Homo sapiens: one gene and its partners. The protein of the gene in region 2 interacts with the protein of the main gene of each other region in a biochemical or structural test. Each region holds a gene or a part of one and is shown on either strand. Other genes may lie near its edges. The genes, in order: RPA1, RAD23B, TRPV4, ATXN3 and PSMC2.

Region 1 (6,710 bases), on a different chromosome or scaffold from region 2:
CCAAGGAAGGCAAGGTTTACTCAACATCTGAAAAATCAATGTAATTTGTCACATTCAAAGAATAGAGAAAAATCATCATCAACTGAATAGATACGGAAAAGGCAACACTTACTCATTATAAAGTCTCAGCAAACTAGGCATAGAAGTAATGCTTAAACTGATAGCTGACGTCTACAAAAAAAATCTACGGTTACCATCACACTTAACAGTAAAAGACAATAATATGCTACTAAGATTGGGAATAAGGCAAGGATATACCTCTTAACACCTTTATTCAATGTGGTATTAGAGGTTCTAACTAATGCAATAGGGCAAGGGAAAAAAAGTCATAAAGATTAAAAAGGAACTGGCTGGGCAAGGTGGCTTGTAATCCCAGCACTTCGGGAGGCTGTGGCGGGCAAATCACTTGAGCTCAGGAGTTTGAGACCAGCCTGGCCAACATGGTGAAACCCTGTTTCCATCAAAAATTTAAAAATTAGCTGGGCGTGGTGGCGCATGCCTGTAATCCCAGCTGCTGGGGAGGCTGAGACAGGAGAATCGCTTGAACCCAGGAGGCGGAGGTTGCAGGGAGCTGAGATCGCACCACTGCACTCCAGCCTGGGCGACAGAGTGAGGCTCCCTCTCAAAATAAAAAATAAAAAGATTAAAAAGGAACAGATAAAACTTCCTTTATTTGTAGACAATATGATCGTTTACATAGAAAATCCTAAGGTATCTATAAAAACTAGTAAGTTGATTTAGCAAGTTTGCAGGACACAAGGCTGGTGTGGAATAATCACTTGTATTTCAATATACTAGCAATAAACAACTGAAGAATGAAATTTTCAAAAATGCCACTTAAACACCATCAAAAGAACTTTCTTTATTTTATTTTATTTTTTTTGAGACGGAGTTTCGCTCTGTCGTGCTAGAGCGTGGTGGTGCAATCTCAGCTCACTGCAACCTCTAATGCCCGGGTTCAAGCAATTCTCCTGCTGCAGCCTCCCGCGTAGCTGGGGTTACAGGCATGCACCACCACACCTGGCTAATTTTTGTATTTTTAGTAGAGACAGGGTTTCACTACGTTGGCCAGGCTGGTCTCAAACTCCTGACCTCTGGTGATCTGCCCGCCTCAGCCTCCCAAAAAGTGCTGGGATTACAGGCGTGAGCCACCGTGCCAGGCTTCAAAAGTAAATTATTTAGGGATATATTTAACAGTATACATATGTAAGAACTGCACACCGAAAACTACCAACAAGGCTGCAAACGGCGGCTCTTGCCTATAATCCCAGCATTTCGGAGACGGAAGCAGGAGGATCGCTTGAGCTCAGGAGTTCGAGACCAGTCGGGGCAACAGAAGGAGACCTGTCTCTATAAAAAATTAGCCAGGTGGTGGCTCACGCCTGTAATCCTAGCACTTTGGGAGGCCAAGGTGGGAGGATCACGAGGTCAGGAGATTGAGACCATCCCGGCTAACACGGTGAAACCCTGTCTCTGCTAAAAATATAAAAAATTAACCGGGCGTGGTGGGACGTGCCTGTAGTCCCAGCTATTTGGGAGGCTGAGGCAGGAGAATTGCTTGAACCTGGGAGGCGGAGGTTGCAGTGAGCTGAGATCGCGCCACTGCACTCCAACCTGGGCAGCACAGAAAGAATCCATCTCAAAAAAAATTAGCCAGGTATGTGGTGCACACCTGTAGTCCCAGCTACTCAGAAAGCTGAGGAAGAATCACTCGAGCCCAGGAGGTCTAGGCTGTAGTGAGCTGTGATTGCACCACTGCACTCCAGCCTGGGTGACAAAGCATGACCCTGTCTCAAAACAAACAAACAAACGTCTGTTTTCATTTTCTTTTTCTTTTTTTTTATTGTACTTTGTTTCTCTATACTTCAGTGTATGCAAAGGGATCAGCACTTTGGGAGGCTGAGACAGGAGGATCGCTTGAGGTCAGGAGTTCGAGACCAACCTGGCCAACATGGTGAAACCCCGTCTCTACAAAAAATACAAAAAGTAGTTGGGTGTGGTGGCACATGCCTATAGTCCCAGCTACTCGAGAGGCTGAGGCAGGAGGATTGTTTGCATCTGGGAAGCAGAGGCTGCAGTAAGGTGAGATGGCACCACTGTACTCTACCTGAGTGATAGTAAAGCCCTGTCTCAAAAAAAAAAAAAAAAAAAAAAAAACTAGCTGGGCGCAGTCGTCCCAGCTACTCAGAGGGTGAGGAGGGAGGATCACTTGAGCCAGGGAGATAAAGCTGCAGTAAACTATGATCATGTATGTCACTGCACTCCAGCTTGGATGACTAAGTGAGATCCTGTCTCAAAAAAAAAAAAAAATGAAGCTAGAGGCCAGGCACGGTGGCTCACGCCTGTACTCCCAGCATTTTGGGAGCCCAAGGCAGGTGGATCACATGAGGTTGGGAGATCAAGACTAGCCCAGCCAGCATAGTGAAACCCCGTCTCTACTAAAAATATAAAAATTGGCTGGGTGTGGTGGCGGGCACCTGTAATCCCAGCTATTCAGGAGGCTGAGGTAGGAGAATCGCTTGAACCCGAGAGGTGGAGGTTGCAGTGAGCCGAGATCTCACCACTGCACTCCAGCCTGGCGACAGAGCTAGACTCCATCTCAAAAAAAATAAAAAATAAAAAATAAAAATGAAGCTGGAGAATTTACAATGCCAGATTTCAAGATTTACTATAAATCTTCAATGTTTATGATGATGTGGTATTGACATAAGCACCAACATAGAAATCAATTGACATTCCAGAAACAGATACACATATACAGTCCATTGATTTTATATAAAGTGACTAAGGGGCCGGGCGCAGTGGCTCACGCCTGTAATCCCAGCACTTTGGGAGGCCGAGGCAGGTGGATCACGACGAGGTCAGGAGATTGGGACCATCCCGGCTAACACGGTGAAATACCGTCTCTACTAAAAATACAAAAAAAAATTAGCCGGGCATGGTGGCGGGTGCCTGTAGTCCCAGCTACTCGGGAGGCTGAGGCAGGAGAATGCTGTGAATCCGGGAGGTGGAGCTTGCAGTGAGCCGAGATCGTGCCACTGCACTCCAGCCTGGGTGACAGAGCGAGGCTCCATCTCAAAAATAAAAAATTAAAAAAATAAATAAATAAAGTGACTAAGTAACTCAATGAAATGGGATAGTGTTTTCAATAAACAGGGCTGGAACAACTGAATATCTGTATTTAAAAAAGAGCTATATATCATAGATAAAATAGTAAACTTGAAATGCATTACAGACCACAAGGCAAAGCGAAAACTATAAAACTTCTGGAAGAAAACACAGCATAAAAGATTTGTGACCTTGGGTCGGGTAGGCAAAGATTTCTTTTTTTTTTTTTTTTTTGAGACTGAGTTTCACTCTTGTTGCCCAGGCTGAAGTGCAATGGTGCGATCTTGGCTCACCACAACCTCCACCTCCTGGGTTCAAGTAATTCTCCTGACTCAGCCTCCTGAGTAGCTGAGGTTACAGGCATGCGCCACCACGCCCGGCTAATTTTGTATTTTTAGTAGAGACGGGATTTCTCCATGTTGGTCAGGCTGGTCTCGAACTCCTGACCTCAGGTGTTCTGCCCGGCTTTGCCTCCCAAAGTGCTGGGATTACAGGCGTTAGCCACTGCACCCTGCTGTTTTTATTTTATTTATTTAATTATTTTTTTGAGACGGAGTTTTGCTCTGTTGCCCAGGCTGGAGTGCAGTGGTGCGATCTTGGCTCACTACAAGCTCCGCCTCCCGGGTTCACGCCATTCTCCCGCCTCAGCCTCCCGAGTAGCTGGGACTACAGGTGCCTGCCACCACGCCCAGCTAATTTTGTATTTTTAGTAGAGACGGGATTTCTCCATGTTGGCCAGGTTGGTCTCGAACTCTCGACCTCAGGTGATCCGCCCGCCTCAGCCTCCCAAAGTGCTGGGATTACAGGCATGAGCCACCACATCCAGCCTAGCAAAGATTTCTTAGGACACACAAACACAACTCTGCAAAAAACAAAACAAAAACAAACAAAAAAACACAACCTGATAACTTGGACTTCATGAAAATTTAAAAGTGCACTTCAAAAAAAACAAAATTTCAAAAAAGAAAAGGCAAGTCACAGATTGGGAAAAAATATATGTAATATTTATATTTAACAAAAGACCTAGCAAGAATCAAGAATTCTCACAACTCATTAATAAGCACAAAACCCAATTTTTAGGTGAACAAAAGATGTGAACAGACACTTCTTTCGTGAAGATATACAAATGGCCAGTAAGCCCACGAAAAGATGCTCAACGTCACTAGCCACCAGAGAAATACAAATAAAAGCACAGTGAGATACCATTACACATTCACTAGAATACTCGAAATCAAAGACTGATGACTGGCAAGGATATGGAGCAACTAGAATTCTCATGATCACACTGGAAAAGGTTGGCGATTTCTTTTACACATTCAGTTACCTGTGACCCAGCAATTACATTCCTAGATATTTATCCCAGAGAAACGAAAACATATTTCCACAAAAAGAGTTGTACTTAAATGGTCATAGCATCTTCATTTATAATAGCCAAAAGATGAAAATAACCCAAATGTGCAATAATAAGTAAATAAACAAATTTTGTTATAGTCATACAATGGAATACTACTGAGCCATAAAAAGGTGCAGATTACTGAATTAACATGGGTAAATCTCAAAAACCATTTTGGTCCACAGTGGTGGCTTGTGCCTGTAACCCCAACACTTTGGGAGGCCAAGGTGGGAGGATCACTTGAGCCCAGGAGTTCAAGATCATCCTGGACAACACACCAAGACTCCATCGCTACAAAAAATATTTTTAGGCCGGGCGTGGTGGCTCACACCTGTAATCCCAGCACTTTGGGAGGCTGAGGCGGGTGGATCACGAGGTCAAGAGATCGAGACCATCCTGACCACCGTGGTGAAGCCCCGTCTCTACTAAAAATACAAAAATTAGCTGGGGATGGTGGCATGCGGCTGTAATCCCAGCTACTCGGGAGGCTGAGGGAAGAGAATCGCTTCAACCCAGGAGGCAGAGGTTGCAGTGAGCTGAGATTGCGCCACTGCACTCCAGTCTGGCAACAGAGCAAGACTGTGTCTCAAAAAAAAAAAAAAAAATTTTTTTTTAATTAGCCAAGAGTGGTGGCATGCACTTGTAGTCCCAGCTACTCAGGAGGCTGAGGTGCGAGGATCTCTTGAGTTCAGGAGGTCAAGGCTGGAGTGAGCCATGACTGTGTCGCTGCACTCCAGCCTGGGTGACAGAGACCCTACCTCTGGGGAAAAAAAAAAAACTGCTGAAAGAAGCCAGACACAAAAGGATAGATATTATTTGATTCCATTTATATGAAGTCTTAGGAAAGGCAAAACTAACCTACAAAGGTAGAAACCAGAACACTGGTTGCCTAGGGTGAGGATGGAGGTGGGGAAGGAGCAAGAGGAGTTGTGCGTTGATGGAAGTATTCTATATCTCCACAGGGGCAATGTGGTTACAGGGGTGCGCACATTTGTCAAAGTTCATCAAGCTGTACATTTAAAATACGTGCAATTTGGCCGGGCATGGTGGCTTATGCCTGTAATCCCAGCACTTTGGAAGGCCAAGGCAGGAGGAGCATCTGAGGTCAGGAGTTCGAGACCAGCCTGGCCAACATAGTGAAACCCCATCACTATTAAAAATACAAAAATTAGCCAGGTGGTGGCGTGCACCTGTAACCCCAATTACTAAGGAGACTGAGGCATGAGAACTGCTTGAACCTGGGAGGCAGAGGTTGCAGTGAGCTGAGATCACGCCACTGCACTCCAGGGTGACAGGAGGAAACTCTGCCTCAAATAAATAAATAAATAAATAAAAAAGGTGCAATTTACTATACGTAAGCAAAATGTCAATGACAGTGATTTTTCTAAAAAGCAGTTATTCTGGGGAACAGTACTGGACAAGGTAAGGCAGGAGGTCAGTAATTACATTAAACACCTCTTTCTTTCTTCTTTCTAAATGAAATAGAGACAGGATCTTGCTATGTTGCCCAGCCTGGTATCAAACTCTTTCTTGGCCTCAAGGGATCCTCCTGCATTAGCCTCCCCAAGTGCTGAGAGTACACATGTGAGCCACCATGCCCGGCCATGAACACCTTTCTGTTCCGTTTGATTTTAAAACCACGTGCATGTATGAGGGGGATTCAAAAAGTACACGAAAAATGTGCATTATGAAAAAACTATGCATGCATTTCAAAAATTTTTTTTGCACTAAAATAAACTCATACTAACTTGTTATAACATGTCTGAACAAGACCTAGTTTGAGGTACTAAGAAGGATAAGACATCAGTTTGAAAAGAGCCCCTATCAGAGCAACATGAATTCTGCTAAAATGGAAACAACAACAAACAACAAATTCAAGGGGAAGGTTGGGTGGAAGAAGGATGAGATCACTTATGAAAGAAAAGTATATGGGGACGATGCTCCAAAGAAATCAGCTGTTTACAAATGTAACTCATTTTAAGGGACAAGGCCAGGCACAGTGGCTCATGCCTATAATCCCAAAGACTTGGGAGGCAAGGCAGGAGAACTGTTTGGAGACCAAGAGTTAGAGACCAGCTTAGGCAAGATGGCGAAACCCCATCTCTACACAAAATTAAAAAAAAAAAAAATTAGCTGGGCATGGTGGCATGCACCTGTACTCCCAGCTACTGGAGAGGTTGAGGTGGAAGGATCACTTGAGCCCAGGAGT
Region 2 (6,710 bases):
ATGATTGTCTTCCTGAATAGGAAATTACAACATACATCTAAAAATTCTCTTTTATTCATTAGTAACCTCAAAAACAATTCCTGTATGTACGATTTTTGGTTTCCTATAGCATAACCAGACAAGTACCAGCACCCTGAAAAAGCCAGAAGTTCTGTATTTTATATTTTATTTGGCATTATTAACATTTATTATTGTGAATGGATTTTAGACTGAAGAGTTTAGATATATTAGTACTAGATTGCCATACAGCTTATTTATCCGAGTTTTTGTAGTTCACAAATGTTTGAAAATTAATGGTAATAACCGGAAGTCTTCCTTAATGTAAGTTTGGATTAAAGTTTCTCCTGATTTGCAAAACCTGACCTCAGACTTTAAATATCTTTTTCTTCTTTGGTTTCTTGAATTCCTAGGAATTCAAGCTCAGATTGTGTTCTTTTAGGGGTTTTCATTGTTTATAAAGTAAGTGAGTTTTTGTTTTTGTTGTGGTGTATATTTTTCTTAGGAACTTTTAAGCAACAGGAACAACTTTTAGTACTTTTTATTTTGATAGAACACACACAGGAGACAAGTTTCTAGTATTATTTTATAACGTTGAGTGCCAAGGGCAATTATAGGAAAGTTTGGTTCATATTACAGTCAGCGTTCTGCACTCCCTGCCTTTGCTAATAGGAGTAATTTTTGCCGTATAAAACTTGCAAGTTGGTACAGTTGGAAGATTTCATCATTATTTACTTCATTTTATTACATCTGAGAACTCAAATCATTTTTTCTTTGATAGTGTTTGCTGTCTAAATGTATTATTTAACCACTGTTTGTGTATGTATTTACTGCTTTTGTTTAGAAATGTTTATGTGTATTTTAGGACATCCCCTTGAATTTTTACGGAATCAGCCTCAGTTTCAACAGATGAGACAAATTATTCAGCAGAATCCTTCCTTGCTTCCAGCGTTACTACAGCAGATAGGTCGAGAGAATCCTCAATTACTTCAGGTGACTAATCAGTGTCAGTTTCACAAGTGATTTAGAGTGTGTCACAATTTGAAAAAGTCCATGAACGGTCCTTCCCCTCCTCAAATACAACTCTGTATTTGAGAATGTGAATGTTTTCTTCCAAGCTACACTTAGATATTGTAATCTAGATAGGTGTACTAAAAAAACAGTTGGGATATGGAGGTTGGGTTAAATTAAGTTGACCAAATAGTAGTAAGTTTGGGAAACATTTTATATTTCCTTTTTGGAGATTCCCACTACACATTAATATGTTAAAGAATTTGGGAAGCTGTTTAACAGAGAAACTGCCTAACTTTAAATCACTTTTCACAAGCTTATTACTCAGTTCCTTTTTCTTAGGAACTTTTAAGCAACAGGAACAACTTACTCTTAGAAAAAATAGCTGTGGGGCTTCTTTAGTGATCAGATCACCAAGTATTTGAATTTTATACAGCATTTTAATGCCCACTAGTGTGGAAGGTAAAAAATACATGCAAGTATTAAGAATAAGTTCTATTCTTATAGTCCCACAGTAGTTTTTTTTGTTTGTTTTTTGTTTGTTTTGTTTTTTTAAGCACAGGAGGCTCAGAGCACTTAAGAATTTGAATTTCTTCACTGTTTACTTTGCCCAAAAGTACTGAATTTCTTTACTATTGTATAAGAAATCACATCCTTCCAAAGACTGAATAATCCAGAATCACTAAATTACGTTTGCAAAAGTGTAGCCTTTTCTCTTAGTAATATTTAGAATTTCTCTGTTCCTGCAGATACTTAATATCAGTGTATTATTTTTCTCTGTCCTTCATATCACCACAGCAAATTAGCCAACACCAGGAGCATTTTATTCAGATGTTAAATGAACCAGTTCAAGAAGCTGGTGGTCAAGGAGGAGGAGGTGGAGGTGGCAGTGGAGGAATTGCAGAAGCTGGAAGTGGTCATATGAACTACATTCAAGTAACACCTCAGGAAAAAGAAGCTATAGAAAGGGTGAGTTTAAGTAAAACTTTAAAAAAATTAGTTCTTGGCTGGGCTCATGCCTGTAATTCCAGCACTTTGGGAGGCCAAGGCAGGTGGATCACCTGAGGTCAGGAGTTCAAGACCAGCCTGGCCAACGTGGTGAAACCCCATCTCTACTAAAAATACAAAAATTAGCTGGCGTGGTGGCACATACCTGTAATCTCAGCTACTTGGGAGGCTGAGGCAGGAGAATTGCTTGGACCTGGGAGGTGGAGGTTGCTGTGAGCCGAGATTGTGCCACTGCACTCCAGCCTGGGCAACAGAGTGAGACTCTGTCTCAAAAAAAAAAAAAAAAAAAAAAAAAAAATTCCTTAGTCACACTAGCCCCATTTCAAATGCTCAGAAGTCACATATTAATAATAAGGTTTTTCTATAATTTCTTTCAATAGTGTCCTGTAGTTTTCAGTGTAGAAGTTGTGTAATACTTTTGTTAAAATTATTTCGAAGTATTTTTATTCTTTTTGATGCTGTTATAAATGGATTTTTCTCTTAATTTCATTTTCAGACTGTTCATTGCTAACTATATAAAAATACAATTTAATTGTGTATATTGATCTTTTATCATAAAACCTTCTTGAACTGTTATTTATTCATTAAGTAGTTTGTGCATGTGTTCATTAGGATTTTCCATATACAAGGTCATGTCATCTGCACATGGAGACAGTTTTACTTCTTTTCCAATATGGATACCTTTTATTTCTTTGTCTTATTTAACTGCCCTATCTGGAGCCTCCAGTATATTATTAGACTAGCAAGAACCAACAACATCCTTGTCTGGTTCTTGATCTTAAGGGAAAGCATTCAGTCTTTCATCACTAAGTATGATATTATCTATGGGTTTTTTGTGGATGCCCTTTATCAGATTGAAGAAATTCTCTTCTGTTACTAGTTTGTTCATCACGAAAAGGTGTTGGATTTTGTCAAATTTTTTTTCTTTCTTTATTAAGATGATCATGTGATTTTTGTCCTTTAGTATGCTTTATTACATTGATTGATTTTGTATGTTGAACCAACCTTGCATTTCTGAGATAAATTTTACTGGTTACAGCATATGATCTTTTTTATATGTTGCTGGATTTAGCCTGCTTGTATTTTGTTGAGGATTTTTGCATCTGTTCATAAGTCATATTGGTCTGTAGTTTTTTTGTGATGTTTTTGTCTGAATTTGGTGTCTGGGTAATACTGGCCTCTTAGGGTGAGTTGGGAATTATTCTCTCCTGTTGTCTGGAAGTATTTATTAAGAATTGGTGTGGGCTAACACGGTGAAACCCCGTCTCTACTAAAAATACAAAAAAAATTAGCCAGGCGTGATGGTGGGCGCCTGTAGTCCCAGCTACTCGGGAGACTGAGGCAGGAGAATGGCGTGAACCCGGGAGGCGGAGCTTGCAGTGAGCCGAGATTGCGCCACTGCACTCCCGCCTGGGCCACAGAGCGAGACTCTGTCTCAAAAAAAAAAAAAAAAAAGAATTGGTGTGAATTTTTTGAATAGTTGATAGAATTCACCAGTAGTCTGGTCCTGGGCTTTTTTTGGGGGGAAGTTTTGTGATTATTGATTCAGTCTCTTGTTACTTGTCTATTCAACTTTTGTATTTCTTTTTTTTTTTTTTTTTTTTTTTTGAGACAGAGTCTCGCTCTGTTGCCCAGGCTGGATTGCAGTGGCGTGATCTCCGCTCATTGCAAGCTCCACCTCCTGGGTTCACACCATTCTCCTGCCTCAGCCTCCCGAGTAGCTGGGACCACAGGCACCCGCCACCATGCCCGGCTAATTTTGTTTTGTATTTTTTTAGTAGAGACGGGGTTTCAACATGTTAGCCAGGGATGGTCTCGATCTCATGACTTCGTGATCCACCCGCCTCGGCCTCCTAAAGTGCTGGGATTACAGGCGTGAGCCACTGCACCCGGCCAACTTTTCTATTTCTTTTAGAGTCAGTTTTGGTGGTTTTTGACTTGGAATTTGTCTATTTTATCTAAGCTGTCTAATTTGTTGGCGTGCAATTGTACATATTTCCTTATAATCATTTTATTTCCTCTTTTGATAAAGTAATAATGTTCCTGCATTTATTCCTGATTTCAGTCATTTGAGTCCTAAGATATTTTTGTTTTTTCCCTTCAGTTTAGCTAAAGGTTTTAATTTTGTTCATTTTGTGGTGGTTGTTGTTAATGACAAAAATAACTTTGGGTTTTGTTGATTCTCCCTATTGTTTTTCTAGTCTTTTGTTTTGTTTTGTTTTAAGTCTCTCTAATGTTTATTTCCCTCTTGCTTGCTTCTAGTTTGTTCTTCCTTTTTTAGGTTAGGTTTAGTTTAGTTCTTTGTTTAGTTTTAGTTTAAGATTAAATTATTATCTATCTTTGTTAGCATAGATGTTTATAGCTATAATATTCCTTCTGCGTTTATGCTATAGTAGCATCCCATAAGTTTTAGTATGTTGTATTTTTGCTTTCTTTCATCTCAAAATGTTTTTTAATTTCCCATTTGGTTTCTAATTTAATTCATTCGTTATTTAGGATTGTGTTAATTTCCACAAGTTTATGAATTTCCCACATTTTCTCCTTTCGATTTCTAAATTCATTCCATTATAATCAGAGAATATACTTTCAATACTTTTCAACTTATTGAGGTTCGTTTTGTGGCCTAACATGGTATTTCTGAAGAATGTTCTATGTATACTGAAGAAGAATATAGTGTAGTTCTTATTAAGTGGTCTATAAATATCTGATAGATCTAGTTTGTAGTCAAGTCTTCTTCCTTAGCTGTTTTATCTATTATTGAAGGTGGAGCTGTAGTTGTCTCTATTATTGTTAATTGCCAATTTCTACCTTTAATTCTCAGTTTTTATTTTATGTATTTTGTGGCTCTGTTATATATAATTGTTGTGTCTTCCTGAACCCTTTTTATCATAAAATGCCTTTTGTCTATAGTAACAATTTTTATCTTAAATCTGTTTCCTCTGATATAGCCATTCTAGCTCTTTTTTGGTTACCATTTGCATAGTATATACCTTTTTCTATCATTTTACTTTCAACCTACTTGTGTCTTTGAATCTAAATTGTGTGTTTTGTAGAAGCAGGCAGTTGGATTGTACCCTTTACTTCACCTATCCTAGCTTTAATCTGGATAAAACCCAGATAACAAACTGATTTTTTAGTTTCTTCTGCTTTCATAGATGAATAGTTATTCGTGATGAATTGGGATTTTTGCCCAAATTTTAAGGGTTATTTCCAAATATAATCTGACACAGCAGTCTTTAACCTTTTTGGCACCAGGGACCAGTTACGTAGAAGACCTTTTTTTCTACCAACATAGGTGGGGTGGGCGCAGTGATTTTGGGATGAAACTGTTCCACCTCCGATCATCAGGCGTTAGTTAGGTTAGGAAGTGGGGTGGGGCGGTGGTTTTGGGATGAAACTGTTTCATCTCACATCATCAGGCATTTGTTAGGCTATCATACGGAGCACAGACCCTAGATCCCTCTCATGCACAGTTCACAGTAGGGTTCATGCTCATATGAGAATCTAATGCCGCCACTGATACAACAGGAGACGGAGCTCAGGTGGTAATTCGAGTGATGGGGAGTGGCTGTAAATACAGATGAAGCTTCACTTGTTCGCCCACTGCTCACCTCCTCCCGTGCGGCCCAGTTCCTTGCTCACCCACTGCTCACCTGCTCCTGGGCAGCCCAGTTCCTAACAGGCCAATGGCTGGTGCCAGTTCACGGTCTTGGGGTTTGGGACCTGTGATCTAACTCAAGGTGATTGAGACAATTGAGGAGGGTGACATTTGGCTGAGTTTTTAAAGGCTTTTAAAAGGAGTGAGTATTGTCACAAGTGATTTTTAATATAATAGACTAGGAAAATGAAATTAAGTAGCTGGTATTACCATTTAAAATGCTGTAACTGTTAAGCAGATAAAAATAGAACATTATCTTCAAAATGTACCATGTATTACTAATAATTGGTCACCTGTTTTTCTAGTATGGAGTGTTGAATAAAGCAAGGAGATTGAGAGTGATGTTTGATCCAAATGAAAGACATGAGTTGACATTAATAAATAAAACATAATTTGCTTTTAATTTAGAAATAGGTGAGGTGGTTAAACTATACTGCAGGTACTCTCATCCTTATCTTCACTCTTAATATACTAAAAGCCATTTGATTTACATATTTCTGTAGAGTCATTTATTTTTAAACCATAGCAGTTAGCAGCTAATTTTTAATTAGGCCAAAGAGTATTTGCATAGTATCTATTAAGCTTTAACTAGAAACAAAGACTTTTTTAGGTGATTAGTAAAGGAAAGGGTCTAGATTCCATCTAATCCCTTGGGTTGGGCAGTAAATCCATATTGATAGAGATGAATTCATGTAAAATTCTCAAGAGCTTTTTTGGGTTGCAGTATGTTTTTGAGTAATGATTTATCTTTAGTGCTATGCTGGAATCTATAATATGTAAATAAAATTAAATGTGCCATAATTGGTGTGTTGGATTTATATTTTTTTCCTTTTTCTTCCAGTTAAAGGCATTAGGATTTCCTGAAGGACTTGTGATACAAGCGTATTTTGCTTGTGAGAAGAATGAGAATTTGGCTGCCAATTTTCTTCTACAGCAGAACTTTGATGAAGATTGAAAGGGACTTTTTTATATCTCACACTTCACACCAGTGCATTACACTAACTTGTTCACTGGATTGTCTGGGATGACTTGGGCT
Region 3 (6,710 bases), on a different chromosome or scaffold from region 2:
CAAAATGTTGGGATTATAGGTGTGAGCCACCGCACCCGGCCTATATATTATTCTTTGATTCATCTTCTCTCTTCACCTCCAGAGTTTTAGTTCCATGTGGTAGGGACTATTTCGTGTCCCCTGTGTCCCCAGCATTCAGCATGGTGCTGAAGCAAAATGAGGTGTCAATGAATATTTGGTTTTTTTAGGCTGTAAGATCAGGGACCTGAAGTTCCAGGCAGGGTTGCAGAGCAAGGGCAGCCAGAATCCTGATGGGGAGGGGGAAAGGCTGTGAGGAGGAGGAGGAGGAAGATAAAGGGCAGAGGAGGTGTCAAGGACAAAGGTGTAGAGGGGAAAGTGCAGGGTGCACAGAGGAATGGTGTGGCCTGGGGCACAGGGAGAAGGAAAGCAGAAGAGATGGGTGAGTGGGTGGGCAGTGGGGAGGTGGGTGGGGGTTGGAATCCATGGGTAGGAAGGAGCCCACAGAGAAGGTGCTCAGGCTCCCAGACAGACCCAGTGTGCTTCTACCTCCCTCCACCCTGGGGCTCCTTAGCCAATTTGGGGGCCCCCACTTCCTGTGGTACCCTCAAATAAACACAACTGTGAGTGCCTGCCATTCCAAATCAGTCTTGCCGGGGACATGTGGATAGGAAGGTACTAGGAAGACAAGGACTCTGAGCTTTGCTGTTACTAGAGAGAAAATCCCAGACCTGTCCACCCCCTCCCCACCTTCCAGGTAAGAAAACTGAGGCTCAGAGAGGCGAAGTCATTTGTCTGGCATTGCCTTGCTCCAGAAAGGGGGAGGCAGGATTAGAACCCATGCATCCCCGGGACCTGCGCCTTTGATGGACACTTTACAAAGACAAGGGAACTCTGGGAGGGAGAAGCTGGAGAAAGAATGGAGTGGGGGATGGGTCGCAGTCCCTGACGAACCACCAGTTCACCAGCTCTGGGCAAGTCACCTGGCCTGCCCATGCCTCGGTTTCCTCACCTGAAAAATGGCAATGATCCTAGCACCTACCCCAAGGGAACTGTCGTGAGGGTTACATGAGATAAAGCATGCAAAACACTGAGCCCAGTGCCTGGTACAGAGCATGCATTCAGTCAAGCATGGCTGCTGTTGGAATCATCAGTATCAGTGTACTATTTATTAGTATCATTAGGGGAACAGATGAACAAAAGGACTGAGGACCAAGGAAGGCAATGACTCCTAGAGAAGGCAGAGCGGCCAGATCCAGAGCCTTGGAGGTAGACTCTGGCAGCCACCTCGAAGTGGCGGCTGCTGGGAACAGCCGGCTGGGAGCTCAACTCCTTGGCCAGGCGAAACCTACTGCCTGCCAGGCTACCCCACGGCTCCCAGGCACTTGGCAGGCGGCAGCAGTAGGGGGGCATCATGCCATGCCCAGCACCTTCCCTGGCCAGCCTGTATTTACCTAGCAGGTCTCGGCCCAGCCCGCTTCCTGTTTGCTGCACAGTGGCCGCCTGTCCAGGACAGACAGAGCCCCAGTGTCCTGCTGGGCCCCCACCCCATGCACTCACACCACCCAGGCAGGGCAGGTCTGGGGTGACTCACCGCGCCCCACGGAGGGCAAGGCCAGCGTGGCCACGGCAGTCATTTGGTCATTCTGCAAGCCCTTGGCTGGAGGGAGGCCGGCTGACAGCACACACAGATGCCCCTCTGAGCTTTCACAGGGACCAAGTCATTTCCAAGGGTCCCGGCCCCTGGGTAGGAGCCACCAAGAAGCGGTGTGGCTTAATGGTTAAGAGCATGCACCTTGTAGACACAAAAGGCCACATATTGCAGGATTCCATTTATATGAAATGCCCAGAACAGGCAAATCCACAGAGACAGAAAGCAGATTAGTTGTTGCCAGGGGCTGGGAGTGGGGAGTGGTGACTGCTAATGGGTACAGAGTCCTTTTTTGGGGTGATGAAAATGTTCTGGAATGAGATAGTGCTGATGTCTGTACAACTCTGAATACACTAAGAAACCAACTGAATTGTACGTTTTAAAAGACTGAGTTATGAGTATGTGAATTACATCTAAATGACCCTTCCAGGCTTAGTGACCTCAGGCAGGTCACTTCCCTCCCAGAACCTCAGTTTCCTTGTTGCAACATGGGAATGTCATGGAGATTAAGCACACATAAAGGGTTTCTTTTTTTTCTTTCTTGTGTGTGTGTGTGTGTGTGCGCATGTGTGTGTGACAGAGAGAGACAGGATCTTGCTCTGTCACCCAGGCTAGAGTATAAGTGGCACAATCTTGGCTCACTGCAACCTCCGTCTCCCAGGTTCAAGCAATCCTCCTGCCTCAGCCTCCCAAGTAGCTGGGATTACAGGTGCCCACCGCTGCGCCAGCTAATTTTTGTATTTTTAGTAGAGACGGGGTTTCACCATGTTGGCCAGGCTGGTCTCGAACTCCTGACCTCAGGTGATCCGACCGCCTCGGCCTCTCAAAATGCTGGGATTACAGGCGTCGGCCACCGTGCCCAGCCACATAAAGGGTTTCAAACAAGGTCTGGCACGTAGTAGGAGCTCAAGGATACAAAGTCACTACCCCAGGAGGCTCCAGGTCCTTCTTCCCTTATCTCGCTTCCTTCCCATCAGAGCATAGCCCCAGGATTCCACCCTCTCAGCCAGCCCTGCTTGAGAACATGCTACTCAGCTCCAGCCCAGGAGGAGGGAGGCATCAAATTCTTAGTCCGGCCGGGCGCAGTGGCTCACGCCTGTAATCCCAGCACTTTGGGAGACCGAGGTGGGCGGATCACTTGAGGTCAGAAGTTCAAGACCAGACTGGCCAACATGGTGAAACCCCATCTCTACCAAAAATACAAAAATTAGCCGGGTGTGGTAGCATGCACCTGTAATCCCAGCTACTCGGGAGGCTGAGGCATGAGAATCTCTTGAACCCAGGAGGCAGAGATTGCAGTGAGCAGAGATAGCACCACTGCACTCCAGCGGGGGCGACAAGAGCGAGACTCCATCTCAACAAAACAAAACCTTAGGCCCGCCTTCTCTCTGGCCTAGCCCCTCTCCTAGAGGATGGTCACAGCCACGGAGAACTCCAGAGAGGATTCTATAGTCTGAGAACGTTGCCTGATCAATGCTTTACATCTCATCTGCCACTCACTGGCTGTATGGTCTTGCACAAGTCACATCTCATCTCTGGGCCTTGGTTTCCTTATCTGTAAAATGGGAGTAATAATTACTACGACCTGGGTGGGGTTAAGCCGTATTTGCTCCATAGTTATTTGGTGTATAGCACATTCATGCTTTAAACTAAAAAATAAGGCTGGGTGCAGTGGCTCACACCTGTAATCCCAACACTTTGGGAGGCCAAGGTGGGAGGATCGCTTGAGCCCAGGAGTTCGAGACCAGCCTGGGCAAAATGGTGAGATCCCATCTCTACAAAAAATAAATAAATTTATTTATTTTTTAAAATATTAAAAAATAAAATAACAGCTCCTACCCCAAAGAGCTATTGTGAGGATTAAATGTGATAATTCAAGCCTTCAGTGCAGTGCCCAACAAACACCAAGTGTTCAATGAACTTGAACTTATTTTTTAGTTTAAAGCATGAATGTACTGTATACCAAATAACTATGGAGCAAATACAGCTTAACCCCACCCAGGTCGTAGCAATTATTACCCCCATTTTACAGATAAGGATGTTCAATGGCTGCTTTGCCATTCTTGCTAACATTCCCTCAGTTTGCAGTGGGAGGTGGGGGATGATGACATTGAGGTCCAGGGAGGTCAGAACTGGGCAGGCACTGGAACCCAGACTTCCCGGCTCCAAAACCAGGGCTCGTGACTGCAGAGACCTCACCTTTGGAAAGGGTTTCCTCGCCACCTCATTTCCATCTTCTGTCACCTTTAGAAGGCTGTCAGGACAAGGGCTGCCTCCCAGCTGGGAGACTAAGGACCAGAAGGGACAGGACACTCGTCCATGCATACGTTCCTCTACCCCACTTCTAGGAGCAAAAGTCCCGAGTTTGCCAAATCAGAGGAGGGGGAAGAGGGCAGGTGCCCGTTATGAGTGGATGGGGCAGGAGTCGGGGAAGGGAGCCCAAGGCAGCAGAAAACCAGTTTGAGATCCTTCCTCTGTCCCAGCCCACCTCAACACCAGTCTGTGCCAACAGTAAGCTGCTGCCTCAGGGGTTAACTGCTTGGAATTATGACTGAGGCTAATGCCTGCAATGTACCATCAGTAATGCCTACCCTCCATGGCACACTTCACACAGCACCTCCCATTTGGTTGTTTTTTGTTTTGAGACAGGGTATGGCTTTGTCACCCAGGCTGGAGTGCAGTGGCACAATCATAGCTCACTGCAGCCTCGACCTCCCAGGCTCAAGCAATCCTCCCACCTCAGCCTCCCCAGAAGCTGGGACCACAGGCATGTACCACCATTCCTACTTTTAAAATTTATTTTTTGTAGAGATGGAGTCTCACTCTACTGCCCAGGTTAGTCTCCAATGCCCGGGCTCACGTGATCCACACACCTTGGCCTCCCAAAGTGTTGTGATTACAGGCGTGAACCACCATGGCTGGCCCCTTCTATCTATTTTAATCCAAATAATAACTATAGACATTAAATATTATTGTCTCCATTCCCAGATGTATAAAGTCAGTCCCGGGGGAAAGGAGGTAAGGGCTGACATTTATCCAATACCTATCATATGCTAAGCACTTTCACATTTCTCTCTCATTTGAGGTCGGTGTTATTGTTATCATTTCACAGATGAACAAACTGAAGATCAGAAAGAATGAGATTTAACTGAGTCCACAACGCTACAGGAAGTGAATGTGGCTAGACTTCCAACCATCTGCTTTTAAATCCATTTGAGTTCATTCATCCCTTTGGGGGCTACCATGCCCTCTCCCTAGGACCCCCCTTCTCAACGCCATATCCCTTGGAACTCAGCAGGACAAGATGGCACAGTGGTGACAGGCTTGGAGTCTGAATCTTGACTTTGCCATTTAGTAACTGCGTGGCCCCAGACGGATCACTTGACCTCTCCGAGCTTCAGTTTCCTCACCTGTAAAAGGGAGCTCATCACAGTTCCCACTGCTGGATTACTTGTCATTGTGGGTATCAGAGTCTCACAAAGTGGCCTCAAAGCACTGCGTGTGGAATGATGTCACTCGGACAAAAGCTCTAGGGCGGAGGGACTCCCTTCTGGTAACTGCTGAGGCCCAGATGCCTGGAACAGGTCCTGGCACATAGCAGCTGCTCAAGATGTATTTGCTGGATGAATGAATGAATGAATGAATGAACAGAGGAAAGGAGTGAAAGACGGGCTTAGTCATTCTCTCCAGGGCAGACAGGTCTCCAAAGCGAACCTCTGCCCAGCTAACTAATTAGCTTCCTCCCATCCATTTTTTAACAGACAGCTTACGGAGCACCTGCTATGTGTGGGGTTTTCTGGCCTATAAGACCAACACCTCTCATGAGGACAACTATCGTGAGCCCATTTTATAGATGAAGAAATTGAGGCTCAACAAGACCAGGACACTCACTCAAGCACACTTGGTCTCAGAGCCAGAGCCTGTATCTGAGCAGGTGCTTCCTTCTGATGCCCTGCCTGGCTGGCTTGTCCAGTCACTCATTCCTTCCTTCATTCATCCCTTCACTCTATCTACAGGTATTCCTGAGCCCCTCCTGTGTGCCAAGCAGGGACAGGAGTGAGCCAGACCCATGGGTCAGTCAACCCCATGCCCCCTGTCCCACCCTCACCTGCTGGGGTCTCAGCCCAAAGCCCATGGAACCCACCCTCCATAAACACACACACACACACACACTACACACAAATACATATACACATTACACACATATACACATACATACACACAATATACACACATACATACATATACACGCAAACATACACACACATACACACATGCACACATAGACATTCACATACACACATACACATGTATATACATACACATATGCACACACATACACACAGACATACATATACACACATACACACATATATACACAAACATACACATAAACATATAGTCATACATATACACACATACACATATATACACATATACACATACACATATAGACATACATATACACACATACACATACACACACAGACACACATACGCACATACACACGCACATCAATATACACACACATACACACGTACACAAACACACACACAGGGAATGGTCCCAGAAGGTGGCCAGCCCACTCGGTCAACCGGGTGGAACCCAGGCCACTCCACCCTCAGGGGAAAACGGGCGCCTGGTGAGACTGAGGAGCTCTTTGTGCAAGGGGCAGGGTGGGTGGACAAGAGGGGCTGCTGTTACTCACTAACCAAAGAAATAGAAGGATATTCCCGTTTGGTCAATGGCCCGCCTGTCTGTCCCCTGAGCCCCCGCCTCCTTCTGTGGCCTTTCCAATGCCCTGACCTCATCTGGAGACCGGCAAGGGCTTCCTGTGCGCCTGGTGTGGTCTCGTGTGATCCTCCCTCACCGATGAGGAAACATGCTCAGAGAAGTGATGTAACCTCCTTGGGGTCACACAGCCGGCAGTGGCCAGGGCTCGGGGCAGAAAGGGGAAACCAATGCTCAGGAAGGGGCTAGGGGTGGGAAGGAAGTCAGAGTCACATTGAAAGTGAGGCCCTGTCCCTTCCTCATTCCTGTCCGGCCACTGGGGTGCCAGCTCATGGGCTGCAAGGGCACCCGAGGTTGAAGGAGCCCAGG
Region 4 (3,500 bases), on a different chromosome or scaffold from region 2:
TCCCAAGTAGCTGGGATTACAGGTACACACCACCATGCCTGGCTAATTCTTGTATTTTTAGTAGACACGGGATTTCACCATGTCGTCCAGGCTGGCCTTAAACTCCTGACCTCAAGTGATCCACCTGCCTCGGCCTCCCAGAGTGCTGGGATTACAGGCATGAGCCACTGAGCCCGGCCCAATCTCGTTTTATAATACTCCCATCTCCCATTCTTTCCACTGTCCCACCTGCAAGTTTGGATTATTTTGTAACAAATCTCAATCATCATATTATTCTATAACCATTTTAATATGTGTCTCTAAAATATATTAGCTTTATTTTTAACATAGTTAAATGCTATTGTCATAAAATAATAATCATAATAATTAATTGTAATTCTATATCATCAATTATCTAGTTAATGTAAAAAATAAATCTAAGGCCAGGCGCGGTGGCTCACACCTGTAATCCCAGCACTTTGGGAGGCTGAGGTGGGCAGATCACCTGAGATCAGGAGTTCAAGACCAGCCTGACCAACATGGAGAAACCCCATCTCTACTAAAAATACAAAAAATTAGCCAGGCGTGGTGGCGCATGCTTGTAATCCCAGCTACTTGAGAGGCTGAGGCAGGAGAATCACTTGAACCCGGGAGGCGAGGTTGCGGTGAGCCGAGATCGTGCCATTGCACTCTAGCCTGGGCAAAAAGAGTGAAACTCCATCTCAAATAAATAAATAAATAAATAATAAAAAATAACTTAAATCTACTTAATTAGAAAAACTAACATTCTAAAAATTTTATTTTAAGAAATATCAAAATTGGCTGGGCACGGTGGCTCACGCCTCTAATCCCTGCACTTTGGAAGGCTGAGGTGGGCGGATCACCTGAGGTCAGGAGGGTCAGGAGTACAAGACCAGCCTGGCCAACATGGCGAAACCCTGTCTCCACTAAAAATACAAAAATTAGCCAGGCATGATGATGGGCACCTGTAATCCCAGCTACTCAGGAGGCTGAGACAGAAGAATCGCTTGAACCCAGGAGGTAGAGGTTGCAGTGAGCTGAGATCACCCCACTGCACTCCAGCCTGGGTGACAGAGTGAAACTCCGCCTCAAAAAAAAAAAAAAGAGAAAAGAAATATAGAAATTAAAGCATACATGGCCAGGCGTAGTGGCTCATGTCTGTAATCCCAGCACTTTGGGAGGCTGAGGCAGGCAGATCACTTGAGGCCATGAGTTCAAGACCAACCTGGCCAACATGGCGAAAGCCTGTCTCTACTAAAAATACAAAAAAATTAGTTGGGCATGGTGGTGCACACCTGTAATCACAGCTACTTTGGAGGCTGAGGCAGGAGAATCGTTTGAACCCAGAGGTGGAGGTTGCAGTGAGCCGAGATTGTGCCACTGCACTCTATCCTGGGTGACAGAGCGAGATACTGTCTCAAAAAGAAAAAAAAAAGGCTGGGCGCGGTAGTTCATGCCTGCAATCCCAGCACTTTGGGAGGCCGAGGCAGGCAGATTACGAAGTCAGGAGATGGAGACCATCCTGGCTAATACAGTGAAACCCCGTCTCTACTAAAAAATACACAAAAATTAGCTGGGTGTGGTGGCAGGCACCTGTAGTCCCAGCTACTCTGGAGGCTGAGGCAGGAGAATGGCATGAACCCGGGAGGTGGAGCTTGCAGTGAGCAGAGATCACACCACTGCACTCCAGTCTGGGCGACAGAGCGAGGCTCTGTCTCAAAAAAAAAAAAGAAAGCATACTCTCACCTCCTTCAGTGACTGATGTTAGTATTTTGGCACATTCTTTTTCTGTGACATATACACACTTACCTTGTAAGTGTTGTACTCATTTCCTATGACAGTAAATAGTCTTTGTAACAGGCTGCATGATATTTCATAAAATGAATGGATGTGGCATAATTTATATGTGAGCCTTTTGAATTCTGCTATTATAATTAATATTGCAATGAACAATTCTTATATTGCCTCTACACCTCAAATGTCTTATCATTTCTTCTAGTTTTTCTGAGGATGTCAGATTATTGGGTTAAAGGATATGAACATTTTTAAGGCCTTGGAACAGATTTCTAAATTGCTTTCCAGAATAATTCCCATGTGATACTTTCACCATGTTTATTTCAGACTTTTTTTTTTTTTTTTTTTTGAGACGAAATCTCACTCTGTCACCCAGGCTGGAGTGTAGTGGCATGATCTCGGCTCACTGCAACCTCCGCCTCCTGAGTTTAAGCGATTATTCTGCCTCAGCCTCCCAAGTAGCTGCGGTTACAGGCAAGTGCCTCCATGCCTGGCTAATTTTTGTGTCTTTTGTAGACATGGGGTTTCACCATGTTGCCCAGGCTGGTTTCGAACTCCTGAGCTCAGGCAATCTGCCTACCTCGGCCTCCCAAAGTTCTGGGATTACAGGCGTGCACCACCGCGCCCAGCCATCAGAGTCTTTTTTGTCAAAATAAAATGGTCTAAAGACATACATCATAGAGAAACTATAATACAAAATTTACAGGTATATCTAAGAAAAGAAAAGTATATTTAAAGCATAAAAATAAACTGCTCTTTTACTTAAAATTTTTTAAAAACTGGATTAAAAATATGAAACTTCCAACAAATTGAGCTTTTTTTTTTTTTTTTTTCTTTTTTGAGACGAGGTCTCGCTTTTGTCACCCAGTCTGGAGTGCAGTGGCGCGATCTCGGCTCACTGCAACCTCCACCTCCCTGGTTCAAGCAATTCCCCTGCCTCAGCCTCCCAAGTAGCTGGGATTACAGGCGCATGCCACCACGTCGGGCTAATTTTTTTGTATTTTTAGTAGAGAGGGGGTTTCACCATGTTGGCCAGACTGGTCTCGAACTCCTGATCTCAGGCAATCTGCCAGCCTGGGTCTCCCAACATGCTGGGATTACAGGCATGAGCCACTGCACTCGGCCTGAACTTTTTATAGTAGTAACGATAATTCAGTAATGTCCAATAATGACTAAGTAAGTTATAACAAGTACAATGTCAGCAATAACTAGTGCTTTTTAGTAAACAGGGTCAGGCAACCTTGTACCCTTTTAAAAATGTTCGAATATCGATATACCTCCTTCCTACTTGGTGGAGGATTGATTGAGGAGGAAAGTGTGCAGTGATGGTTACCAGCTTCAGCCTCTTGGCTTGACTTTGCAAATACTGGTGAGAATTTGGAAAGAGCTTGAGAATATCTTACATAGTCACATGTTGCTGAGAAGAGTTAAGAACTAACTTCTTGATGTTCATTTTTAACAATGGCTTGCATTCAAAACCTTGTAGAGCTCATTAGTAGGAGCTAAGAAGCTAATATTTGCCTTTCACTAAAATTCCTGATTACTTAGCCTAGGTAGTTCGTTGTCTCTCTAGGTTCTGTCTTTGGGAGCTTGGGTCTAAGGTTATCAAGCTAACTCTTTCTTCCCTCTCACCCTTCCCAAATTGACCCTGGTGCTGATTTGTTATTCATACGATTTTCTAGTTTTTCTTTTCCCTTTTTGAGTAT
Region 5 (6,710 bases), on a different chromosome or scaffold from region 2:
CCATTTTTCTTCTCGTAGGTTTTTAATTTCTCAGGTAAAAAAACTCAGGTTTTTTATTTCAAGGCTCTTATCTTTATTCTTTCATTTTTGTGTGTGTGTTGAATGTTCTGCTCTTATATCATGGTTGTAATATGTTCTTATCTCTCTATGGTAAATTAAAAAATCTAGGTACATTTTTCTAGGCCGTATGAGGGGAATTTTCTTTTTTCTGTAAAGCAGTTAGAGGGAAACTTTTCATATAGATTTTTCATAACAGACAGACTAGCTAAAGAGCCCTATACCCCTACAAGATCCCAGGCCTTAAAGAAAGCAAAGATTATTTTGAAAAAGTTTCCATTGATTTTAGTCTCATACTCTTTGCTTAAAACTCTTGATAAAATTTGTGTATGTGTAATTTTTAGCTTGTGAATTTTTTTTTTTTTTTGAGACAAGGTCTCACTTTGTTACCAAGGCTGGAGTGCAGTAACATGATCTCAGCTCGCTGCAGCCTCTGCTTCCTGGGCTCCCACCTCAGCCTCCCAAGTGGCTGGGACCACAGGTGCATACCACCCCATGTCTGGCTTTTTTTTTTTTTTTTTTTTTTTTTTTTTTTTAATTTTTAGTAGAGACAGGGTCTTGCCATGTTGCCTGGGCTGCTCTTGAACTCCTAGGCTCAAGCCATCTGCCCACCTTGGCCTCCCAAAGTTCTGGGATTACAGGTGTGAGCCACCGTGCCCAGCCAGCTTATGAATTTTTTTAATAACAATCTTACTGATATAAAATTCAGATATCATGAGGTTCACTCTTTTAAAGTATACAATTTAGTGATTTTTAGAATATCTAGAAAATTGTGCATTGATCATCACTATCTAATTCCAGAATAGAATATTTTTGTCACCCCAAAAACAAACCCAATACCCATTAGCAGTCTTCATTCCCGTCTCTTTCCAGCCCCTGGCAACCATTTATCTACTTTCTGTTTCTATGAATTTGTCTATCCTGGACATATCATCTAAATGGAATCATATAGTACATGGCTTCCTTCACTTAGCATATTTCAAGGTTCATCCGTATTCTAAAATAGATGGAACTTTTTATGGCCAAATAATATTCCAGTCTAATTTCTCTATCTGTATTCACTATTGGTGAGACATTCTTCTCATCATTCCTATAAACTCTTTAGATATGGTTTCCTTTAGCTTTTTGAAAATATTTCTTGTACTGATTTAAGGTTTTTGTTTGACTGGGCGCAGTGGCTCATGCCTGTAATCCCAGCACTTTGGGAGGCTGAGGCAGGTGGATCACTTGAGGTTGGGAGTTTGAGATCAGCCTGGCCAACATGGTGAAACCTGTCTCTACTAAAAATATAAAAATATTAGCTGGGCGTGGTGGCAGGCGCCTGTAATCCCAGACACTTAGGAGGCTGACGCAGGAGAATTGCTCGAACGTGGGAGGCGGAAGTTGCAGTGAGTCAAGATCGCGCCACTGCACTCCAGCCTGGGCAGCAGTGAGATTCCGTCTCAAAAAAAAAAAAAAAGTTTTGTTTAATAACACCAACATCTAGGCTTCTTAAGGGACAATTTCTATTGACTGATTTTTTTCCCCTTATGTATGAGCCATAATGTCATACATAAGGGAAAATGCATTTCATAATGTTTTGCATCTCATAACTTTTTGGTGATAACTAGACATTTAAAATAATGTAATGTGTCACCTCTGGAAATCAAATTCTTCCTTTCCCCAGGGTTTGGTATTATTGCTGTTTGTTGTTCTTGTTTTTCCTTTCAGGTTTTTTGGTCAGCCTCTTTTTTTTTGGTAGAGAATGGGTATAATTCTTCTTCCCTAGCAAACATGGTTGGTAACAGAAAACAGAGTCCTTCACACAATTATGCTATCAGGACAAAGCATTCTTTTTTAGCCTTGACCTCCTGGGCTCAAGTGATCCTCCAGCCTCAGCCTCCTCAGTAGCTGGGACTACAGGTGCATCCCACCACACCTGGCTAAGCCAAAGCATTCTGTACCTTACTTTTAGCTCTACCTATGTGCGCACTCCACAGGCTATTTTTGTATTTCTCTGTAATTCTTGCTGTGGCTTATGTAGCAGCTTTCTAATGTGAGTTCTGTTTTTTGTTTTTGTTTTTCTTTAGTAGATAGATACTATAGAAGGGGAAAGGCGGTTGACTATTTTATACTGTGATGTGCATGGCATTATAAATTCATTTTTACCAGGCCATATGGAAATGAATATAATTAAGTTAAAAATAGCTTCTACTGGCCGGGTGCAATGGCTCACGCCTGTAATCCCAGCACTTTGGGAGGCCGAAGCAGGTGGATCACTTGAGGTCGGGAGTTTGAAACCAGCCTGGCCAACATGGTGAAACCCCGTATATATTAAAAATACAAAACAATTAGCCGGGCGTGCTGGCGCATTCCTGTAATGCCAGCTACTTGGGAGGCTGAGGCAGGAGAACTGCTTGAACCCAGGAGGCGGAGATTGTAATGAGCCGAGATCGCACCACTGCACTCCAGTCTGGGCTCCAGAGCAAGACTCTGTCTCAAAAAAAAGAAAAAGAAAAAAAAACAAGCTTCTACTGCCTCAGTTAAAAAAAGAAAAAAGTAGCAAAAACAATAAAAATGGATTTAAAGTCCGGGTGTGGTGGCTCACGCCTGTAATCCCAGCACTTTGGGAAGCTGAGGCGGGCGGATCACCTGAGGTTGGGATTTCGAGACCAGCCTGACTAGCCTGAGGTTGGGAGTTCAAGAGAAACCCCCTCTCTACTAAAAAAAAAAAAAAAAATACAAAATTAGCTAGGCATGGTGGTGCATGCCTGTAATCCCAGCTACTCGGGAGGCTGAGGCAGGAGAATTGCATGAACCCAAGAGGTGGAGGTTGCAGTGAGCCAAGATCACACCATTGTGTTTCAGCCTGGGCAACAAGAGTGAAACTCCATCTCAAAAAAAAAAAAAAAAAAAAAAAGAAAAACGGATTTAAAGTATAAACTCAGGAAAAGAATGAAAACCCATTTATTACTGAATTTGGTGTAAGACAAGATGACCATCTTTTTGTAGGGAAAATAAAAACGAGAGCAACTTAAGATATACAGGAGCATCACTAATAATAAAGGAATACAAACTATGGAAATCAAGAAATCAGAGAACTTCTTAATGATGAGATATTTGGGTTTAATTTTCCAGGAGAATGTATTTGAAAATTTTATGACTTGGCTAAAGTCGAATGGACCTTTGGAGTTGGGTATAGAAAAGGATCTTTAACAGTGTCCCAGTTTCTGTAGTTCTAGTTTATACCTGTATATTGCACACTCAGGATATAATCTAGTTAGTTGAATTCATTATTAGTGGCTTAGGTTCCTTATTCTAATCAAGCTTTTTGCTGTGTTAGGTGTACAAAGATAATCAATGCTGATTCGGAGGACCCAAAATACATTATCAACGTAAAGCAGTTTGCCAAGTTTGTGGTGGACCTTAGTGATCAGGTGGCACCTACTGACATTGAAGAAGGGATGAGAGTGGGGTAAGATTTCTATTTACAATAAATACTTTTCTTTCACTAAGGATACTGTCTCACATTCATATCCTTGGCTTTGTAGTGAATAAATGGACTGAGTTCCTTGGAATACCAAAGGATGATCTAGTAATGTACTATAGTTGAAAATTCTGTCTTCTGCATCTGCTTCCTAACTTCCCATCGGCTTCGCTGACTCCCCTACTCCCACTGTTGTTTATTATGAATGGCTTCAAATTTCAGAGTTGAGGTTACCAGTCCATTTAAGGTAACATGGTATAGGTTGGGGGAGTACTTGCTTTAGGATAGTTGTGATGCTAAGTGTGTTAATGTCTATAGAATACATAACAACTCACTTAGTAAATTAAAAAAAAATCTCCCCTCCCTCCTCAAAGGTTTGATTGCTGTTGGATAGGTTGTTTGCGACATTAGACATGTAGTTTAGTATCCTCAGATTTCATGCTCTCTTTATTTCTCTTTATATAATTAGGGACTCTGTCTCTCTCTTGTTTTCTTAAAGTATGGTTTTGGGGATAAAGGACTAAACATAAAAGCACTTTGAAAGCTTAAAGAATGTATTAATGACTATCTTTTTTACTTCCTTAGCGTGGATAGAAATAAATATCAAATTCACATTCCATTGCCTCCTAAGATTGACCCAACAGTTACCATGATGCAGGTAAGAAACTATGGGAGGGAAAAGGAAGGCTATGTCTTTTTTTTTTTTTTTTTTTGAGGCGGAGTTTCACTCTTGTCCAGGCTGGAGTAGAATGGTGTGATCTTGGCTCACTGCAACCTCTGCCTCCCGGGTTCAAGCAATTCTCCTGCCTCAGCCTCCCGAGTAGCTGGGATTACAGGCACCCGCCACCACGCCCAGCTAATTTTTGTATTTTTAGTAGAGACGGTGTTTCACCATGTTGGCCAGACTGGTTTCGAACTCATGACCTCAAGTGTTTGGCCTGCCTCAGCCTCCCAAAGTGCTGGGATTCCAGGCGTGAGCCACTGAGCCCGGCAGTATTTTATATATATATTTTTTGAGACAGAGTCTCAGCCTGTCTTTATTTTACTAGTTTGTTTTTCATTCATTAGTGTCATAACAAGTTAATACAGCAAGTAGTTCCAGGGCACTGGGCAATGTATTCAATTTTTATTAAAATTCTCACTTGTGAGTTTTTCTTTTAAGGTATTAGGTCTATTCTATTGAATTTGGACAGTATCCAAAAAGCCTGTGACTGTATGTTGTACATTTCTGTCCCTCTCTTAGGTGGAAGAGAAACCTGATGTCACATACAGTGATGTTGGTGGCTGTAAGGAACAGATTGAGAAACTGCGAGAAGTAGTTGAAACCCCATTACTTCATGTAAGTAGCTGAGTGTTGTATTTAAATTTCTTTGTATAAAGATGTCTTTTGTGTATTGAGCACTAAAATTGCTTGTATATTAGATGGCTTTTAATATTTTCCCTAATGAGAGTTTTTTGAGAGGGTGGAGAGAGGAGGTGTGGAGAGTTGGTAAGTTCTAGGGGAGAGCAAGCAAAAAGGATTGAGTGGTCAGGTATATTTAAAAAAGAAAGATCTGCTGTTTACAGTGACAGAGGAGGCACAGTGTAACCTTTAGCAATATGTTAAATATGTTACAGGCTATTATAGAAGAAACTGGTTCTTCAAAAGACATCGAGAAGAAAGGGGCTTAAATTGAAGCAGGTTAAACTTGGGAGGATAATGGAAAACTAGGATACTGAATACCAGATAATTTTGTTCCTTAAACACCATAATTTTTTTTAAATTAGGAAAATATTTTAAGACTGGATAATGGAAGTGCTTTTTAAAAGCCATTTAGTCTTATGTATTGATAGAAGTCCAGTTTAGAACTTATGTCTTAGAATAAGTAAAATTTCTTATTTAGTTCAAGTATGTATATTGTGGACTTAATAATTTTGATTTAAATATTAAAGTATGGTTTTCAGGATAAAATACTAAACATAAAAGCACTTTGTTGATTTAGAAGTAGTCTGATTTTTGTTATACAGAAGTGGTAAGTGTGAAAATTGTGTCTCTATCACAGCCAGAGAGGTTTGTGAACCTTGGCATTGAGCCTCCCAAGGGCGTGCTGCTCTTTGGTCCACCCGGTACAGGCAAGACACTCTGTGCGCGGGCAGTTGCTAATCGGACTGATGCGTGCTTCATTCGAGTTATTGGATCTGAGCTTGTACAGAAATACGTCGGTGAGGTAAAGTAAATTTATCAAAGAATATATAGCCTTGTGAAAGATTTTACAGTATGAATGAAATTAAAAATGGCACTTCTGCATTGAGGGATCCAGACCTGAAATTTCTTTTTTCTTTTGTTGAGACAGAGTCTCATTGTGTTGCCCAGGCTGGAGTGCAGTGACATGATCTCAGCTCACTGCAGTCTCTACCTCTCTGGGCTTAGGCGATCCTCCCATCTCAGCCTCTCAGGTAGCTGAGACCATGGCTACATGCCACCACACCCAGCTAATTTTTCTATTTTTTGTAGAGAGGGGTTTTACCATGTGGCCCAGCTGGTCTCAAACTCCTGGGCTCAAGTGATCCATCTGCTTTGGCCTCCCAGAGTGCTGGTAGTATAGGCAAGAACCACCACGCCCGGCCTGAGACCTGAAATTTCTTGATTGTAATTAGTAGTTTAGAAGCTGCCTTTGTGGTCATTTGGAGATAGGCAACCACTTAAAATTTTAACCAGTATGCCCCCTCCTCAAAAGGGTGACATTTTCTACAGATGTGGCTTTTCTACGGAAATGCCTGGTAAATTAATTAAAAAGTATACTTTTACTTCAGGGGCAGTGTTTTCAGTCCTAATGAGAAAGTGAGAACATAGGTTGTTTTTATGTTTGTAGACATACATATATATATATATATATATATATATTTAGAGAATAAGTCTAGGGCTATATGTATTGTATCTGAAACCTGTTGATGATTCGTATATTTACAATAAGAATTAGCTACGGAGCTGCGTGAGTTGAGGTATCCTTTTATTCCCTAACTAAAACTTGCAAGTCAAATTCAATGATCAGGAATTCCAAGTGATAGATCAGATGCTTTTATTTACTCAAGTTTTACTAATTAGAATGGTTCCTTTATTTAACTATTAATTTGACCTCTTCAGATCTGAAACCTATTGCTATTTAATAGATACAGAATCATGAAAATGACTTAATATTTTAAGGCT

What was found.
Region 1: the proteins of RAD23B (region 2) and RPA1 form a complex in vitro, tested with the Homo sapiens proteins (one study listed by BioGRID).
Region 3: the proteins of RAD23B (region 2) and TRPV4 interact in a test that uses a peptide from one of them, tested with the Homo sapiens proteins (one large-scale study listed by BioGRID).
Region 4: the proteins of RAD23B (region 2) and ATXN3 form a complex in vitro, tested with the Homo sapiens proteins (one study listed by BioGRID).
Region 5: the proteins of RAD23B (region 2) and PSMC2 form a complex in vitro, tested with the Homo sapiens proteins (one study listed by BioGRID).

Annotation. Positions count from the first base shown.
Region 1 is NC_000017.11:1,835,236-1,841,945, reverse strand, and holds part of RPA1 (replication protein A 70 kDa DNA-binding subunit), read right to left. Parts: intron 1-6,710. UniProt on the Homo sapiens protein: As part of the heterotrimeric replication protein A complex (RPA/RP-A), binds and stabilizes single-stranded DNA intermediates that form during DNA replication or upon DNA stress.
Region 2 is NC_000009.12:107,323,028-107,329,737, forward strand, and holds part of RAD23B (UV excision repair protein RAD23 homolog B), read left to right. Parts: intron 1-862; coding exon 863-990; intron 991-1,806; coding exon 1,807-1,977; intron 1,978-6,515; coding exon 6,516-6,629; 3' UTR 6,630-6,710. UniProt on the Homo sapiens protein: Multiubiquitin chain receptor involved in modulation of proteasomal degradation. Binds to polyubiquitin chains.
Region 3 is NC_000012.12:109,821,791-109,828,500, forward strand, and holds part of TRPV4 (transient receptor potential cation channel subfamily V member 4), read right to left. Parts: intron 5,813-6,710; exon of another isoform or gene 5,020-5,812; intron 1-5,019. UniProt on the Homo sapiens protein: Non-selective calcium permeant cation channel involved in osmotic sensitivity and mechanosensitivity. Activation by exposure to hypotonicity within the physiological range exhibits an outward rectification.
Region 4 is NC_000014.9:92,075,583-92,079,082, reverse strand, and holds part of ATXN3 (ataxin-3 reference isoform), read left to right. Parts: intron 1-3,500. UniProt on the Homo sapiens protein: Deubiquitinating enzyme involved in protein homeostasis maintenance, transcription, cytoskeleton regulation, myogenesis and degradation of misfolded chaperone substrates.
Region 5 is NC_000007.14:103,358,578-103,365,287, forward strand, and holds part of PSMC2 (26S proteasome regulatory subunit 7), read left to right. Parts: intron 1-3,379; coding exon 3,380-3,511; coding exon of another isoform or gene 3,512-3,515; exon of another isoform or gene 3,516-3,890; intron 3,891-4,108; coding exon 4,109-4,181; intron 4,182-4,766; coding exon 4,767-4,862; intron 4,863-5,565; coding exon 5,566-5,730; intron 5,731-6,710. UniProt on the Homo sapiens protein: Component of the 26S proteasome, a multiprotein complex involved in the ATP-dependent degradation of ubiquitinated proteins.